Linked DNA regions of Homo sapiens. The protein of the gene in region 3 purifies or fractionates together with the protein of the main gene of each other region. This does not show direct contact. Each region holds a gene or a part of one and is shown on either strand. Other genes may lie near its edges. The genes, in order: FBXO33, RGS12 and ARL4C.

What was found.
Region 1: the proteins of ARL4C (region 3) and FBXO33 purify together in Homo sapiens (co-immunoprecipitation; 3 studies listed by BioGRID and IntAct, with this or other methods). This does not show direct contact.
Region 2: the proteins of ARL4C (region 3) and RGS12 purify together in Homo sapiens (co-immunoprecipitation; 3 studies listed by BioGRID and IntAct, with this or other methods). This does not show direct contact.

What each region holds. Positions count from the first base shown.
Region 1 is NC_000014.9:39,404,692-39,408,439, reverse strand, and holds part of FBXO33 (F-box only protein 33), read left to right. Parts: intron 1-3,748. UniProt on the Homo sapiens protein: Substrate recognition component of a SCF (SKP1-CUL1-F-box protein) E3 ubiquitin-protein ligase complex which mediates the ubiquitination and subsequent proteasomal degradation of target proteins. Probably recognizes and binds to phosphorylated target proteins.
Region 2 is NC_000004.12:3,295,935-3,299,682, reverse strand, and holds part of RGS12 (regulator of G-protein signaling 12), read right to left. Parts: intron 1-3,748. UniProt on the Homo sapiens protein: Regulates G protein-coupled receptor signaling cascades. Inhibits signal transduction by increasing the GTPase activity of G protein alpha subunits, thereby driving them into their inactive GDP-bound form.
Region 3 is NC_000002.12:234,495,420-234,499,167, reverse strand, and holds the start of ARL4C (ADP-ribosylation factor-like protein 4C), read left to right. Parts: upstream 1-2,086; 5' UTR 2,087-2,581; coding exon 2,582-3,156; coding exon of another isoform or gene 3,157-3,160; exon of another isoform or gene 3,161-3,331; coding exon 3,332-3,362; 3' UTR 3,363-3,748. UniProt on the Homo sapiens protein: Small GTP-binding protein which cycles between an inactive GDP-bound and an active GTP-bound form, and the rate of cycling is regulated by guanine nucleotide exchange factors (GEF) and GTPase-activating proteins (GAP).

The DNA.
Region 1 (3,748 bases), on a different chromosome or scaffold from region 3:
AATAGCAAAATAACAAATTTAACCTAATTTTAAAACAAGCAAAAGACTAATAGACATTTCTCCAAAGAAGACATACAAATGGCCTCCAGGCATATGGCAAGATGCTGAGTTTCATTAATCATGGAAATGCAGATCAAAACCACAGTGAGATATCAACTCACATCTTAGCATGTCTATTATCAAAAATAAATTTAAGGTCAGGCATGGTGGCTCACGCCTGTAATTCCAACACTTTGGGAGGCTGAGATGGGCAGATTGGTTGAGTCCAGGAGTTCAAGACCAGCCTGGCCAACATGCTGAAACCCTGTCTCTACTAAAAAATACAAAAAAAGTTAGCCAGGCATGGTGGCGCACACCTGTAGTCCCAGCTGCTCAGGAGGCTGAGGTGAGAGAATCGCCTGAGCCTGGGAAGTTGAGGCTGCAGTGAGCCTAGATGGTGCCCTGCACTCCAGCCTTGGCAACGAGAGTGAGACCGTCTCTAAATAAATAGACATTTGTGAGGATGTAGAAAAATTGGAGCTTTTATACAACTGTTTGTGGGAATGTAAAATGGTGCAGCCACTATGGAAAGCAGTATGGAGATTCATCAAAAATAGCACTGCCGTATGATCCAATAATGGAATATTTCTGGATATGTATACAAAAAGAGTGTAATCAGGATCTCAAAGATATCTGCACACCCATGTTCACTGCACCATTATTCACATTAGCCAATATAAGGAAACAACCCAAATGTCCATCAAAAGATGCATAAAGAAAATGTGATATAGACATGCAATGGAATAATATTAAGCCTTTAAAAAAGAGAGAAATCCTACTATATTCAACAAACTGGATGAACCCACAGGACATTATGCTACATGAAATAAGCCAGTCACAGAAGGACAAATACTACATGACTCCACTTATGTGAGGTATCTAAAATAGTCAAACTCCCAGAAGCAGAGAATAAAATGGTGATTGCTGGGGCTGTAAGGAGGGAAAAATGGAAAACTGTTAATCAATGAGTATAAAATTTCTGTTCTGCAAGATGAAAAATTTCTAGAGATCTGTTGTAAAGCATAGTACCTATTAGGATTGTGTGAGTCTGTTGATCAATTTGGGGAGAATTGACATGTTAACAGTATTGAAACTTCCAACCAACAGACATGGCATTCCATTTACTTAGATCTTGTTTGATTTATTTCAACAATGTTTTGTAGTTTTCAGTGTATAGGACTGATACTTCTGTTCAGTTTATTCCTAAATATCTTGTATTTTTGATACTACTGTAAAAAGTTGTTTTTTAAATTTTAATTTCCAAATGTTCATTGCTAGCATGTAGAAATACAATTGATTTTTATATATTGACCTTGTATCCTGTGACCTTACTAAACTTGCTAACTTTACTGAACTCATAGTTATAGTAGCTTTTTTTAGATTCCTTAGAATTTTTGTGTAAATGATCATGTAATTGGCAAATAAGGACACTTCTGCTTCTTTCTTTCCAATCCATATTCTTTTTATGGATGAATAGTTTTATGGAGTATAGTTTTAATAGCTGATTTAAGTTCTTTCCCTAAATCCTTCATCTGCCATTTCTGAGTATATTTCTGTTGATGGATTTTTCTCCTAGTTGTGAGCCGTGTTACCTTACCACTGTGTGGACTCTACTGCTTTCCAGCGGTTCTCTCTTCAGACTTGTAGTTTTGCCCAACACATGTACAAATCATTACTCAGCCAAAAACCTGGGTAATATGAAGTCTTTGCAAATCTGTGAAGCTCTTTCTGTACAGTTTGTCTCTGGTACTCTGCCCTAAAATTCTAGACTGCAAACTCCCCAAAATCTCTTGTCTCCTCGATTCAGGGAGACTACCAGGCTATGTTGTAACCTGAAAACTCTCTCCAGACCATAATCGGAGGCAATTTATAATACACACCTCATTTTTTCCCCATCTTTCAGGATCACAGTCCTATATTGCTTATTGTCCAATGTCTGAAAACAATTATTTTGTTTTCTCTAGTTTTATAGTTGTTTACAGAGGGAAGGCCGTTGTCCTTAGTGTTTCTTTGTAGAAGAAGTAAAAGTCTCTTACATGTGTATTTTAATACCACCAAATAAATGAAAGTTGAGTTGAAAGGAGAAAAATACTGAGACTGTATGACTGTCCCCTCTGAGTATTATTAGAAATTGTGTGACATATTTTTTCTACTTTATATAATACCTTATATTCTCCAAAGCCAAATATCCATTCTTTTAGAAGCCTTTAATTTTTTTTATTTTTCTTTTTAAGAAAACTTATGGAAAACAAATTAACGTCTTTATAATTTATGGATATGGTAGCAACTTTAGAATAAAGAAAGGATAAAAACCTTAAAAGCAGACATACTTATATATGTTAGTAATGTATTCTTTGGAGTCTAATATGGAAGCCATTCTCACAAGAACAGTTTTATATCCTTTCTGTAACAGAAAAAAATACGGTTTTTTTGTTCGATGTCTCCTTGAAATGTTTTTTAAAATACAGTTTAGAATCACATGTCAAGTTGATTAGATTTACCAGAGTGACTAAAACTTTTTAAAGGTCAAGAAAAATTAGATTATTTCCATTAGTAATTCCTGTGATGTTTTCCTTGACATGTTCTACATTGGCTGTTTTATAACCTTTTCCTATTTACTACTTGGATTCTTCATATTTTTCTTATGTGGGGTGATTTTATATATGAATTTTTTAAAATGTAGCATTTGTTACACATTTTTCTCACAATGTTGGTTTGCCCTTTTTAGTGAGGTATGCTGTTGGATATCAAGTTTTTCATTTTTATATAGTCAAAAATGTATCACTTCCTAATTTATTGCTATTCTAAGATTAGGAAGACTTGACTATCTTAAAAGCACCTCAGGTTCAACATGTGCAAAATAGTGCTCATTGTTTACTTCACCACCATGCCTCCACACCCCCCCAAAAAATTCCCTGATTTTCATTTCTAATATTCCCTATCCCAGTAAGAAAGAAACTGTACCATGTTAACACAACCCAGAAAATTTAGGAGTTATTCTTGCCTACTGTCCCCTCACCCCCTATAGCTAATCCAGCACCTATTCCTGTCCATTTTACCTCTGATATGTAGCTTGAGGCTGTCCATTTTCTCTACATTGACCAACAAAACTCCAGTTCAAGGTGCCAGTATCTCTCATCTCTATTACTAAAATACTTTCTTAACTCATCTCCCCACTTTGGTTCTGGCATCCTTCCAGACTCTTCTAATGCCACAGTAACATTTTCTAGACAGAAATTTAATCATTTTATTCCTTTTTTTTTTTTTTTTTTGAGACAGAATCACACGCAATGGCGTGATCTCGGCTCACTGCAACCTCCCATCTCCCAGGTTCACGCGATTCTCCTGCCTTAGCCTCCCAAGTAGCTGGAATTACAGGAGCACACCACCACACCTGGCTAATTTTTTGTATTTTTATTAGACATGGGGTTTCACTATGTTGGCCGGACTGGTCTCGAACTCCTGACCTCGTGATCCACCCACCTCAGCCTCCCAAAGTGCTGGGATTACAGGTGTGAGCCACCGCGCCCAGCCTATTCTTTTCTTAAAATGATTGTTGAGCAGCTTACAAAATTTTTTCTTTGACATAGAACCCTGTCTACCTCTACGTCATCATTTCATGTTCACTTACTCTCTGTACTCCAGTCACTCTGGATTCTTTTCAGCTCGCTTTGATCTCTTCAAGTGCTGCAAATGCTTTTCCTTTTCC
Region 2 (3,748 bases), on a different chromosome or scaffold from region 3:
CTTTCTTTTAACTGGAGTGCTAGCTCCCTGATCACTTGAACGCTCTATGAGAAAAACAAGCAAACTGCCAAAGACCAATGCCTGGCTACTAATCAAAGTGCCGGCAGCTCTGTCCGTAAATTGACAGTTCCCACATCCTCCCACGCTGCTAAATCAAGTTCCAACCAGACACAAGACACAAAAACCAACTCTGGGAGGTCCTGGAGAGCTATGAAAAGCAGGCAGAAAGTGGAGGGGAGTTGTCCCCTGAAAGGAGAGAGCTGCACCAACTAAAACAAGTGTTTCTAAAAATGGCTAGAGCACAGGTAGAAGTTGTGATCCTCCCAGCTTGAAGAGTCCAAGATAGGGCTTGGGGAGGGCTGGGTGGCTGAACAGTGAGGGGCATATCTCAGAAAGGAGGTCACTGGGGAAGAGGCAGTCGTGAGATCTGTTAGTAAATTCTGCCTAGGTCCTGGCCAGTGGTGAGCCATCCATGCACAGAGAGACCCCAGAGTCCAGCAGAAGGAGGCAGCCGGAAGGTCAACAGCACCAAGCAGAGACTGCAGCAGAGATTTTCATTTGAGTCCAGACAAATTAACTTCCAGAACAAAAATCAACACTCTTCAGAAAAAAGAAGTCACTACAGTTACCATCTACAATGTCCAGTACACCATCAAATAACACTAGATGTTCAAAGAAACAGGAAGATGTGGCCCATAGTTGGAAGAAGCCAATAGAAATTGATCCTGAGGTAATGCAGGTGTTGAAATTAGCAGAAAAGAACATTAAAGCCGCTAGTATGTGTTCAAAGATTTAATGACAGTATGATCACAATAAACAAATGACAGAGCAGAGAAATGGCAACCATAAAAAATAAGTGAAAATTCTAGAAATAAAAACTACTGTAACTGAAATTTTAAAATGCACGAAACTTAATAGCAGTTTGAAGATGGTGAAAAATTACATATCCAAGAAGTTCAACAAACCCTGAGCAGGACAAATACAAAGCAAACCCTCCTAAGAACATCACAATCAAACTGCTGGAAGCCAAAAATCCCAGGAGGAGCTTGAAAGCACCTCATCATATAACATAAAGGAGCAACGCAGCTACCAGAGTGACTGACTTCTTAGAAACAGCAAAGGGGCAACATGACGAGACTATGAAAAAATAAAATGAAAAGTAAAAATTGCCAGTTGTGGGGGTGCATGCTTGTGTTCCCAGCTACTCAGGAGGTTGAGGCAGGGGGATCGCTTGAGCCCAGGAGTTTGGGGCTGCAGCGAGCTATGACTGCACCACTGCACTCCAGCCTGGGCAAAAGAGTGAGACTCCGTCTCTTAAAAAAAAAATTGAACAAACATCAAAGAGATCAACAAGATGAGAAAAAAGAGAATTAGAGGATCAACCTAGGAGGTCCAACCTCCAAATAAAAGTTCCAGAAAGAGAAAACAGCAAAACTGAAAGAAAATTATCTTTGAAATTTAAAAACTTCTATCCTCAGACTGAAAGGGCCCACGGAGTGCCCAGCACAATAAACGGAAGCAGATGCCATTATCGGGCTTCTCAGAACACTGAGGGAAAAGAGCCGCTTCTATGAGCTTGAGGCAGGAGAGATCACACACAGAAGAACTGAAATCAGAATGGCGTCAGACCTCAACAGCACAGAAACCAAATGCAATGAAGCAACATTTTCAAAATTCCGAAAAAATCATTGTCTAAAATTTTATACCCAGCTAAGTTAAAAGGTAATTGGAGAGTAAAATAAAGATGTTTTCTAAATCAAGGACCAAAAAAAATACCTATGTGATGTTTCTTAGGTATCAAAAGAGTAGGACTTCAGCAAAACGAGGAGTGAGCCAAGCAGAGAGAGAAGAGCAGGACCCAGTGCACAGGGAGCCCCACAGATGGAGGACAGCAGCGGGAAATGCAGGTGACAGCGGCGCAGCAGGTCTCCTGGAGACCAGGGCAAACGAGAGCAGGGAGAAGGCTCCAATCCCAAAGGGGTGGGGATGGGGCTAGTGTCCTGGATGCAATGAAAAACAAACCATTTTGATAGGTGGGTGACTAGAAGATGCTAATCCACAGGGCTGTGCGAGAGGACCTGTGCTCAGGGCACTCCTTGGCGCAGTAATGAGCAATGCTTACAGTCACACAAGAGCAAGGACTGTCGATTTCACCAAAAATGCAGTGATTATGATGGCACATAGAGGGACAGGGAGGCTGGTGGGACAGAGGAGAGCTAAACCTCCCCACGGCCTTTGGGAGAAATAAAAAAAGAATGTCTTAAGCTTTAAAGGAGCAGCTTCAACAGCAGTAAATGCCTGAGAAAACAGACCACTTAGGATCCCGCCTCTGGGGGCTGCGGCCAGGCAGGGCAGGAGAATGCCTACAACTGGACGCTTCAATCCACAGACTCAGCCCTTTTTCAGGCATGCTGGAAGGACAACTAAGATCACTGCTAAGGGACACAAAGATGTAGGAAAAGATATGTGAGTAGAGTGTGTATGCGTATCGGGTATCACCATGATTACAGAGTTGGGGACAGCAAGTGCATGGAAAAGCAGAAAGAAAAGAAAAACAGAAAGAACAAACTAGATGTTTCTTTTCTCTTTCACTGAAGTCCAGACCTTAAAAGACACAGAAGAAGGGAACTTCTAACACAAGAGTTCCTTGCCCGGAGCCCGAGGCAAGAGGCTCCTTCATGGAAGAATCTAGGCAACTTCTGCAACGGTGGCCCCCAAAACCACAGGTAAAACTGCATGAGCACTGTGTGGAGTATCCAGTTTGGAACTGGTAACGACCCCACCTCCTAAAAAGGCACAGCATGAGTGACCTCCCACAACCTCTCATGACTGGGGCTTGCATCCTGAGCAAGGCTTGTCTTCCTTCCCAGGACACCTGTTTCCAGGATGGCTCCCGCCTCTCCCCAAGGGCAGGGAAGTGAAACCACAGGGACCTTCCCTGGACAAACCCTGCCCATCCCAGAGAAGAGGCATGAGACGGGTGCTCCTCGCACACAATGGGAAAAGTGAAGTCATTTCGAAGACAAGTGAGGAGCCTGCTGTAGGCTGAATAGCGATCCCCAAAGATATCCAGGCCCTAATCCCTGGGACTGTGAAAGCCATACGGCAATACGGATCTGCAGATGTGAGTAAACTAAGGCTCCCAGGACAAGGAGATTATCCTGGAAATTTGAACATGGCAGAAGAAGACAGAAGCTAGGCGCGGTGGCTCGTGCCTGCAATCCCAACCCTTTGAGAAGCTAAGGCAGGAGGATCACTTGAGGCTAAGAGTTCAAGATCAGCCTGGGCAACATAGTGAGACCCCATCTCTACCAAAAAAAAAAAACAGAAAAAATTAGCTGGGCATGGTGGCACATGCCTGGGGTCCCAGCTACTCAAGAGGCTGAGGCAGGAGGATGGCTTGAGCCAGGAGTTCAAGGCTGTAGTGAGCTATGATTGTGCCACCGCACTCCACCTGGGCAACAAAGTGAGACCCTGTCTCTAAAAGGAGAAAATAAAGAGGAGGAGAAAGACAGCGATGTGACAATGGAGGCAGGGCAGGAGCCGGGAGCCAAGGAATGAGGCCAGCCCCCAGAAGCTGACCAGGGGGGCAGTTTTCCTCCAGCCCCCAGAAGCTGACCAGGGGGGTGAACGGCTCTCCTCCAGCCTCCAGAAGCTGACTGGGGCGGGCCAACAGTTCTCCTCCAGTGCCTCGGGAGGGAGCTTGGCCAGCTGACGATGACACCAGTTTCAGCCCAACTAGGGCAAA
Region 3 (3,748 bases):
GGAGAACCACCCTTCCCGATTTCAACCCCTGGGCCACATCCACTGGTGTGTTCCCTCCTCCTGGACTGCAGTCCTTGATCCAGGGTGCGTGCTCCAGGCTTTGGTTAGAGTTACTGGGAAAGAGTTGTACCTTTTCCTTTCCAGGATCTAAACCAAGGATGTGAGTCCAAGGCTGCCAGAAGGAAAAAGAATCAACACAGGGGAACACGGAGGAGGACTGGAGAGACACCTGCTCGAAAGACTCCTTTTGAGCTCCTGGGTCTAGCCATGCCTGAAGAGGACCTTTATCCTTAACTTTTCAGTGATGTCAGTGAATACATTTCCATTTTTATTTAAAATGAAGTAAGTGGCACAGTGCAGCCAATATTTTCTGTTGAACTCTATCCTTCGGGTGGCTCACTTTATTCCTCATTGAAGGAAATAGCGTGTGGGTAGAGTGGGATGTGAGGAAGAGGGCAGGCAGGTGCCCAGTTTTGTGCATACAGACCCTTGGTCCTGGAGCAGGCAGTGGGCCTCTAGGTTCTGCCTTAGCCGTCACGGGCGCCTAGGCCTTGTTACCTCACTGGACAACGTTGGGTGGAATGATAGGCAGGGTCCTTTCCAGCCTGATACTTCGTTTCCAGCCCCAAATCCACTCAGTAGAGTGGATGGTCGCTCCGGCTGCCACCTTGGGAATTCCAAGGATAGGGGTGGTGGTGGCTTGTCCTTCCTTCTACAGGTGAGGTCTTCTCACATGCTTTGGTACCAACGATATCATATGTCTTTTCGTGGTTTGTGAACAGAAGGTGATAAAGTATTTCTCTAAAATTCTAGCTTTTATTCATAAATTCTTAGCATTTTCATTTTCTTCTCCCTTGACCCCGTTTCCGTCGTTTCTGTCTCATAAGCTAGAGCTGGGAAGATGCGGTCGCCCATGCTGCGGCCTGCTGTCTCCTGCGGAGCAGCTCTCCCCAGATCTGTGTGTTTGCCATAATATACTCTCACTTTTCTCCGCACCCAGAGAGGATATACATTTGTTACATGTTTACAAACCAGAATAAAACCATTGAACTGAGGTGACAGGAGGTGGAACCCGTGGAATATCAGTGTTTGTAACCCACTGCGCCACCAGCTCCAAGCTGTAGACACATTTTCTTTCAGCCCCCGGGGCTGGTGTTGCCATTTCTGCGGAGTAGTTCACCTGCGGGCAGGTGGTTCTCAGTTCCCAAAGTCGGGTGGCAAGGGGTGCTCTCCCGAAATGCTGACGCTTCCCCTGGGATGTCAGCAGAGTCGATGCGGACGAAATGAGGTAGCCCAGGCGTGTCTGGGAGGGTGAGCTGTCCGAGCTACTTGGGGCAGGTAGGTCTTCTAATCCCCCATCGCGGCCTAGGTCCGACCCTGCCCCAACCGCCGCCACCGGGCAAGAAAGGCTGGGCCTCCAGGGTGCCCTGGGCACAGGCCTGGGCTCCGGAGGGCGGCGCTGGCCGGGTGCAGCCCCCTGGAACCCAGGCAGGAGGCGAGCCTGGGCGTCACTGGGGGCCGGGGCCGGCGACAGCCGCGGCGCGAGGGTGGGAGGGGACGCGCCCGGCTGGATCCAGAGCGCAGGCTGGCAGCTCACCGAGGCCAGCCCCGTCCCGTCCCTTCTGGGGTTTGGAGGCCCCAGCCTCGCCGCCCTCACTCCCCAGAGCGGCGCTCTCCCAGTCACCCTGGGGGCCGCCCTGCCCCGCCTCGCGCCCACAGAGCTGGGACCCCGGGACCCACTCCCTCAGGCAGGCTGCGTCGCCCACGGCTGCGGCCCGGAGGGGCAGGGGGCGGGCTAGGACCCGGGCGGGGATTCCGGGAGCCGAGAGCTATTTTTGCAAACGCGTCAGCCGCTGGGGAGGAAGAGCCGGCTCCGCGCCCATTGTGTCTGCGCGGCGCGGCGCGGGAGGGGCCGGGGGGCGGCGGGGGGCGGCGGGGACGCAGCGAAGCGCGCGAAAACGGCCGGCTGGGCGGGGAGGACCGCGCCTGACCCCCGGCGGCGGGCGGGGCGGGGCCCGGGGCGGGTCCGGGGGCGGGTCCGGGGCGGGGCGCGAGGGGGCGGGTCCGGGAGCTCTCCGGCCGCTGCAGGCTGGCGGCTGCTGCGGCGGCGCGGGGACTGTGAGGCTGCCGAGCGGACAGCGACTCCCGGGGAAGCCCGCGCTCCGGGAGCGGGAGCGGGAGCAGGAGCAGGAGCAGCGCCGTCCCAGGCCAGAGGCGAGCGCCGGGCGCCGGGAGAGCGGAGAGCCCGGGCAGCTGCCGGAGCGCGGGGGCGCGGCCCGAGGAAACCACAGAGCGAGCCCAGGCCTGGGGAGGGCGCCGAACATCTGAGGCGGCTTCGCGGGAGACAAAGCCGCGCGTAGAGACGCGATGCCCGCCGATCGCGAGCCCGGCCGGCGAGGGCGCGGGGACTGCGGCGTCTGAGCGCGCCAAGCCGTGCGCCCGCGGGGACGCCGAGCCCCGGGGCCGGTGCGGGCGGCGGCGGGCGGGGCCCAGGTGCGCCCGGCCGCGTCGGGCCCGTGACTGCTCGGGGGGCGGCGCCCTCCCGCCGCAGCCGCAGTGGCTGGCGCCGCAGCCAGGAGCCATGGGCAACATCTCCTCTAACATCTCGGCCTTCCAGTCCCTGCATATCGTCATGTTGGGCTTGGACTCGGCCGGCAAGACCACGGTGCTCTACCGGCTCAAGTTCAACGAGTTCGTGAACACGGTGCCCACCATCGGCTTCAACACCGAGAAGATCAAGCTGAGCAACGGCACGGCCAAGGGCATCAGCTGCCACTTCTGGGACGTGGGCGGCCAGGAGAAGCTGCGGCCGCTGTGGAAGTCCTACAGCCGCTGCACGGACGGCATCATCTACGTGGTGGACTCGGTGGACGTGGACCGGCTGGAGGAGGCCAAGACGGAGCTGCACAAGGTGACCAAGTTCGCCGAGAACCAGGGCACGCCGCTGCTGGTCATCGCCAACAAGCAGGACCTGCCCAAGTCGCTGCCGGTGGCAGAGATTGAGAAGCAGCTGGCGCTGCACGAGCTTATCCCGGCCACCACCTATCACGTCCAGCCGGCGTGCGCCATCATCGGCGAGGGCCTCACCGAGGGCATGGACAAGCTCTATGAGATGATCCTGAAACGCAGGAAGTCCCTCAAGCAGAAGAAGAAGCGGTAATGCGCCCGGAGCGACCGGGGAGCGAGCGAGTGCGTCAAGAAAGAATGAATGGATGGATGGATGGTTGGATGGATGGATGGATGGATGAGCGAGAACCCGCGCCCGCGAACAAAGAGCGAACCAAAGCGATGCTTCGAATTTTTAAAACGGAATCTCTGCACCCAAATGCAGGACTGGTGACTTAAGGAGCTGCGAAGTCTGATTTACCGGCCTACTCTCGACCTGCCCCCCACCCCCAGCTCAGGGGACCTTTTGTCTGAACGCCAGAGCTACTGACCAGGTCGGGGGGCCGCGGTGGGGAGTGGAAGAGCCGGTCCTGCTGTCCGCCCTCCCAGCCCCAGGTGGAAGGCTCAGTTGTCGGAAAGACAAAAGCGATTTCTTCCCACTCCTGCAGGGCCAGAAGTTCAGGCTGCCCCGCCTCCACTGGGGGATCGCACCTGTGAATTACCTGAGGTATGCATTTCCCAGAACCGTGGGCGTACCCACCTTGGGGGGCATGTTGGTTCTGGGGGGACCACCTCTCCTTGCATTCAGGGGCTGTGAAGCTGAGTAATTTTCGGTCACAGGGCAGGCCCCTGTTGAAATTTC